Linked DNA regions of Homo sapiens: region 1 is linked to region 2. Evidence: fine-mapped expression QTL. Tissue or cell type: whole blood. Region 2 holds a variant in brackets; the other region holds the start of a gene. All regions are shown on one strand. Distances are from middle to middle. Region 1 holds the start of RTL10 (retrotransposon Gag like 10). Region 2 overlaps GNB1L (G protein subunit beta 1 like).

Region 1 (2,778 bases), 45 kb after region 2:
ACCACCAGCCAAGGTTAGGTATCCAGGTTGCCCACAATGACCACACCCCATGCCCGGGAGCCACAGTGTGCTACCCAGATCTCTGCCTTCCCTTCTTCCCAGTCCCCTACCCTGCCCACTCACCTGCGCACCTGTGTCCCCTGCAGTCTGGGAGAAGGCTTCCCTGCACCAGCCAGCCAGGCCTGCTTTGGGCCTGAGCCTTCCTAACCCTGGGCCGCACTCTCACCATTTTGAGAACCTTAGCCCTCCCACGCCTATCAGTCTGTTGGTCCCCCTACTTTTCTCCCCACACTGCCTGGCATAGAAGACTTTCGGCCCTTCTAGACTGGACAGCACTATCCTAAAGGGGCAGGTACCACGGCGCATGTGTGTTTGCCCCCACAAGGCCAAAGGCAGCACCTGGAACGCTGGAGCCGTTCTCTGCTCTGGGGAGACCCAGGAGCCCCAAGAACAAAACCTGCCCAAAGCCTTAAAGCAAGCTGAGTGCAGACGACTGCACCGCCCGCCCCCCAGCAACCGCCATGCAGGAAATACGAGCTCACAAGGCCCACGGCAACAAGAAGCCCACCCACCTGAGGCTACGCGAATCGCCCGCGAAGAGGGTCCTGGGATCCGTAGCCACAGACCGTGGGACGGGCCTCCCTCTGAGGGCGAGAGTCCAGGCGCCACCTAGAAAGTGGAGAACGAGATCGGCCGCCGTGAGGCCAGGCAAGGAGCGGGCGCGGCTTCCCGAGACTGCGAGAACGGCCCAAATGTCTCCAGGTGCCCCCACAAACCCCCGGCGCGGACCGAGAAACTGAGGCCCGCAGACCGAAGGCACTGCGACCCAGGCTGGGGCTCCGAGTGCCCCTCTGCGGATCAGAAGTCGGGAAAAGACGCAGGGGCGCAGCTCCAGGCCCGCGTGCACGGAGTTCAAGCCGGCCGCCCGGGCTCCCGCCTCCACACTGACCCTCTTGCCGGAGTCGGGAACGCCTGCTCCTAGGAGCGCCGCGCAGCGTCCAGAGACCGATTACATCGCGCAGCCACGCCCCCAGCGTGCGCGCGGCCGCCGTGTACGACCCGGCGCATGCTCCCGGCACGCTCCACGCGCTCCTCCCATCCAGGCCGCGCCTGCGCTGTATGCCGTGTGGCCGCTACCTCGCAGGCTCTCCCGGTCCCTGCTGGCGCGGCAGTGCCGCGCGGTGGGTGATGGGAGAGCGCGCCCATTCCCACGCCGCGCCAAGTGCCACGGGATCAGGTGGGGCCGCGTGTACAGGCGCGAGACGGTCGGGCCAAAGCTGCCCCTCATGATCCCCAGCGGACGGTGCCCGGCGGTCCCTCAGATCCGGGAAATCTGCACCCGGCTGTGGCGTAGACCGAGGGGCCGATGCTGCTTCAGCCCGCCGTTACTGCCCTGGCGTCAGCCAGACACTGGGGTGCTGCTGGGCGTCGAGAGGGCTGCTGCGGGGCCGGGCTAAGCCTGGGGGGCTGCAGGTGTCGGGGTGGATGTGGGCATAGCGGGGCTGCTGGGCCTCGTGAGCGCCCTGGAACGGCGTGCCCGCGGAGTGCCTCTCATCACTCATTGCCAGTGCGGGGAACCTTGTTAGGGCCCGGTTCGACGTAGCTGCAGGCTGGGCGCCAGAGGCAGGGGGCAGGCAGTCCGAGAGGACCCTCTACCTGCATACCTGGGGGCTGCAGGCAGGGCCTCTGGGCCTCCTTGTTGTGGATATAATTGTGTGCTTCCCGACTCAGGCCGAGGCTGGACCCGGAGACGACAGCGAGGGCAGGCTACCAAGCCCTCCCCACAGGGCCGTGCCCAGCCCAAGCCTGCCGAGTCAGCACCCAGATCCTGGGACAAGATAGGTGAGGATGAAGTGGTGGTGCTCTTCTCACTTGCACAAGCCGTCCCACGCCACCTCTCCTCGGCTTCACGGTGCCTAGAGAAGAGGTGGGAGAGGGTGCAGGCGCCCCAGCTCAGGATCTGATGCCTGTGGGCCAAGGACCTGGATGCAAGCCAGGAGTCCTTGGGGCCACGGGCAGGCAGCCGGATTCACCGGAAAGTGACGCTTCTCAAGGGGAACACACACGTAACACACCAGCTCCCTTTCTGCCCTGGTCCAGTGACTCCTTTCATGAAAGCTCTCTGAAATGTTATCTGCATTTACACCCAAACTCACTCACTTTGATCCCTGAAACGCGAATCAAAGGTCACATTGTACCTTCCCTGGGTCTGTGGGGCTTTCAGCAGCCTGGGCCAAAAATAATAAAAGTGGCACCGAGCCAGGAAACGCCTCCTTGAAGTGGGAATGAAATTTGGATTTTTTTCGGTTGTATCTTTCCTAATTGACCTGATAATTTAAACTTCCTCCCTCAAGGGAAAGGTGGGGGTTCCCACAAATTCAGCTTACCTCAGCCTCAAGGCAGCTCAGTCTACAGCTCAGCGCCCATCAGCAGAGTGGGCAGTGGGCCTGTGGAAGAAATGAATCCAACTGAGCCAGAAAAGGCCTTTTTTGGTCCAAATTTTTTTTTTCTTTCAGGCCCTCTCCTGTGTATAACTGTCATGCACCGCATAACAACGTTTTGGTCAACTAGGGACCACATATGTAACTGGTCATCCAGTAAGCTATAGTTATTTTATTATTGAAGAAAGAAAATTTTTAGGCCAGGCGCTGTGGAGGCTCATGCTTGTAATCCCAGCATTTTGGGAGCCCAAGGCGGGCAGCTCATTTGAGGTCAGGAGTTTGAGACCAGCCTGGTCAACATGGTGAAACCCTGTCTCTACCAAAAATACAAAAAATT
Region 2 (2,778 bases):
ATACGGGAGAGGGGCAGGGAAGTGCTAGGAAGGGAAGTCACCTGGCAAGGGCTCCACCCCCGGGCCTGTCCCTATAGACCTAGGTGAGGACAGGCACTCCTGCCTTCGCACCCAAATGCTGCATTTCCCAAGACCACCCTGGCTCACCACACCCCCATTCTGTGCCTTTAAAAACCCCCAAGACCATAGCAAGCAGAGACACAAGTGGCTGGACGTTGAGAGGACGTTGAGGGGAGCACGGTGGTGGAAGAGCACACCGACAGAGGCTGGCATGCTGGCAGGCCATCAACCAGCGAGCGGAATGAGGTGGAATCTGGCCGGGCAGTTGGAGGAGAGCCCAGGCCACCCAGCAGCCCAACTCCAGGGGAAAACCATCTCCCTTCTGGCTCCCTCATCTGCTGAGAGCTACTTCCACTCAATAAAACCTTGCACTCATTCTCCAAGCCCATGTGTGATCCAATTCTTCCAGTACACCAAGGCAAGAACCCCAGGATACTGAAAGCCTTCTGTCCTTGCAATAAGGCAAGGGTCTAATTGAGCTGACTAATACAAGCCACCTATGGACAGCTAAACTAAAAGAGCACCCTGTAACACACACTCACTGGGGCTTCAGCTGTAAACATTCACCCCTAGACACTGCTGTGGGGTCAAAGCCTCACAGCCTGCCTGTCTGTATGCTCCCCTAGAAGTTTGAGCAGTGGGACACCGAGGAAGCGAAACACACCTCCATTGCACGCCCCGGGAGGGGATAAGGGAACTTTTCCCATTTCACAACCTGTTTTCCCCATATTAAATTGAGAAGTTTTGTTTTGTTTTAAAGTCAGAGTCTCACTCTGTCACCCAGGCTGGTGCCATCACAGCTCACTGCAGCCTTGAACTCCTGAGCTCAAGTAACCCTCCCACCTCAGCCTCCCCAGTAGCTGGGACTACAGGTGTGCGGCCACCAGGCCCAGCTAACTTTTTGCAGAGATGGAGTCTCACTGTGTTGCCCAGGCTGGTCTCGAACTCCTGGGTTCCTCCTGCTTTGGCCTCCTGAGTAGCTGGGACTATGATTTCCTACTTTTTGCACTCCTCTGTGCCAGATTTCTTAAAATAAGATCTGTTCTTCTTGTCGCTATATCAGGAAGATGGGCTAGTTCCAGCAGTTAATGGGGTGGGGAGGTAGGGGACTTAAGCCAGGGGCAGGAGGAGCCGCCCTGAGCACACCTGTGCCTCTGTGGGGTGGGGAGGGCTGCGGAGGAGGCAGGCACTGGCTACACAGCCTACACGGCCATACACAGTCCCCAACCAAGGAAGGCCTGTCTCAATTTGGGCTCCAAAAGACCCCTCTGGGGACAGTGAGGGGACATCAAGGGCAAAGGACTTGAGCAGGCCAGTGAGGGCAGGGGCAAAAGATGGGGGGAGGAGGGGTGCGGTGAGGGCAGAACCCAGGGCAGCCCTGATGCCCCACTCTGGGCGCTGCAGGAGGGAGCGGGGGTGGCGGCGCCTTGAACCACATCCTGGGTGCAGGGGAGTGGTGAGCCCTGGGCCTGAGCACCAGAGGTACACACCACGTCTACCTGG[G/C]CTGGGTCCTCAGCCCGGGGCTGCCCCTGCCTGCGCCTGTACTTGGAGCCTCCTACAGACACCCATGAGCTTTCCGCCTGGCACCTGACTGCAACTTTTGTTTCCAGAAGGAAAAATGTTAGGTTTGGGCAAGTGTGGCCACCCAGCCGGCCGAGTGGGGTGGGAGTGCGGCTCCCTGGGCGTTGTCTGGGTGCAGGCCAGTGAGGCTTTCTCCCGCCCAGTCTGACAGATTCCAGGTGGGAATGTGGAAAGCAACTGTTTTCCCAGGATGTGAGAGGTCCCCAGACAGGCTGCCCCGGGAAAAGACAGATGCTGCCCCACAGGGAGAGCTGAAAGCTAGGAGGAGGGTTAGACAGCCTTGAGCACAGGGGACGTGTGGCAGGGGGCAGCGCAGGCTGACCGAGTGCTGGCTGGCGGCCTGGGGGTGGCCGAGACCAGCGCATGGAGCACAGCAGGCCAAGGGAAGAGCTGACTCAAACTCCTGCAGCATTCCTGTGGGTCTGTAGACCTTGGGTCCCGGGGGAGGAAGCACGCCCCTCTTTCTCACATAAATACAACTTGTAACAGGTTTTTGGCAGATTGGCAAGAAAAGTGTATGTAGCTCCTAATTGGTTATTTAAATGCAATGAACAAATAAATGCCTGTTCCTATCTCATTATTTCTGTACTGGATCTGCCTGAAGACAGAACGACTCTCCTTGGGCAGGGGCCAAGCCCAACTGTGCGTGGGGGCCGTCCTGCCCAGTACCAGCCCCAAAGACTGCCCGGGCACAGCGAATGGGGAGGACTCGGCAGTGGGCATGGACAGTAGCCCCCACGTGTGCGCCCCCTATTCCATGGTATGTCCTCCCCATGCCCCGCCCTCGGGCCACCATGCCCCACTCACCAGGTGGGACAGTCGCCACTCAAAGGCTCTTCTCTGATTTCCCTTCAGCTCCCCCAAGAGCTGAGCCTCCAGCCACACCCTCCTCCACTATGACACCCTCCCCGCACATCTTGGGCACCCCTCCCTTGGCAGACCCTGCCTCCTGTGCCACTGGGGGTGTGGATACCACTGTCCAGCTGGGCCAGTCCTGTGTTACCAACACCTCTGGTCATTCTGGCCTAAGCTCCACCTAACAGTGGCCTCCCTGCTTGGTGATCCCCCCACCCCCTGGGTGTTCCCTAGCTCACCTTTCCCCTGAGGACTGTGATCACCACCTTGTGCCTGCACCCA

What was found. PIP is the estimated chance that this variant, and not a neighbour inherited with it, causes the effect.
Region 1: RTL10 starts here. The variant in region 2 is fine-mapped to the expression of RTL10 in whole blood (TOPMed, PIP above 0.99).

The regions. Positions count from the first base shown.
Region 1 is chr22:19,853,871-19,856,648 of GRCh38, forward strand. It overlaps RTL10 (retrotransposon Gag like 10), which reads right to left and starts at 1,004. Exons shown (of 3, transcript NM_024627.6): 1 at 790-1,004; 2 at 573-669. GNB1L (G protein subunit beta 1 like) reads right to left here and starts at 1,004. Exons shown (of 8, transcript NM_053004.3): 1 at 950-1,004; 2 at 573-669. LOC124905080 (a long non-coding RNA gene) reads left to right here and starts at 1,102. Exons shown (of 2, transcript XR_007068005.1): 1 at 1,102-1,842. RefSeq lists enhancers at 1-112, 1,535-2,014.
Region 2 is chr22:19,808,986-19,811,763 of GRCh38, forward strand. The region is part of intron 5 of GNB1L (G protein subunit beta 1 like); the gene reads right to left. Among named protein-coding and RNA genes, the nearest start is that of GNB1L, 44 kb to the right of the region's middle. RefSeq lists a silencer at 2,580-2,755. The variant G/C (reference allele first, on the strand shown) is at 1,564.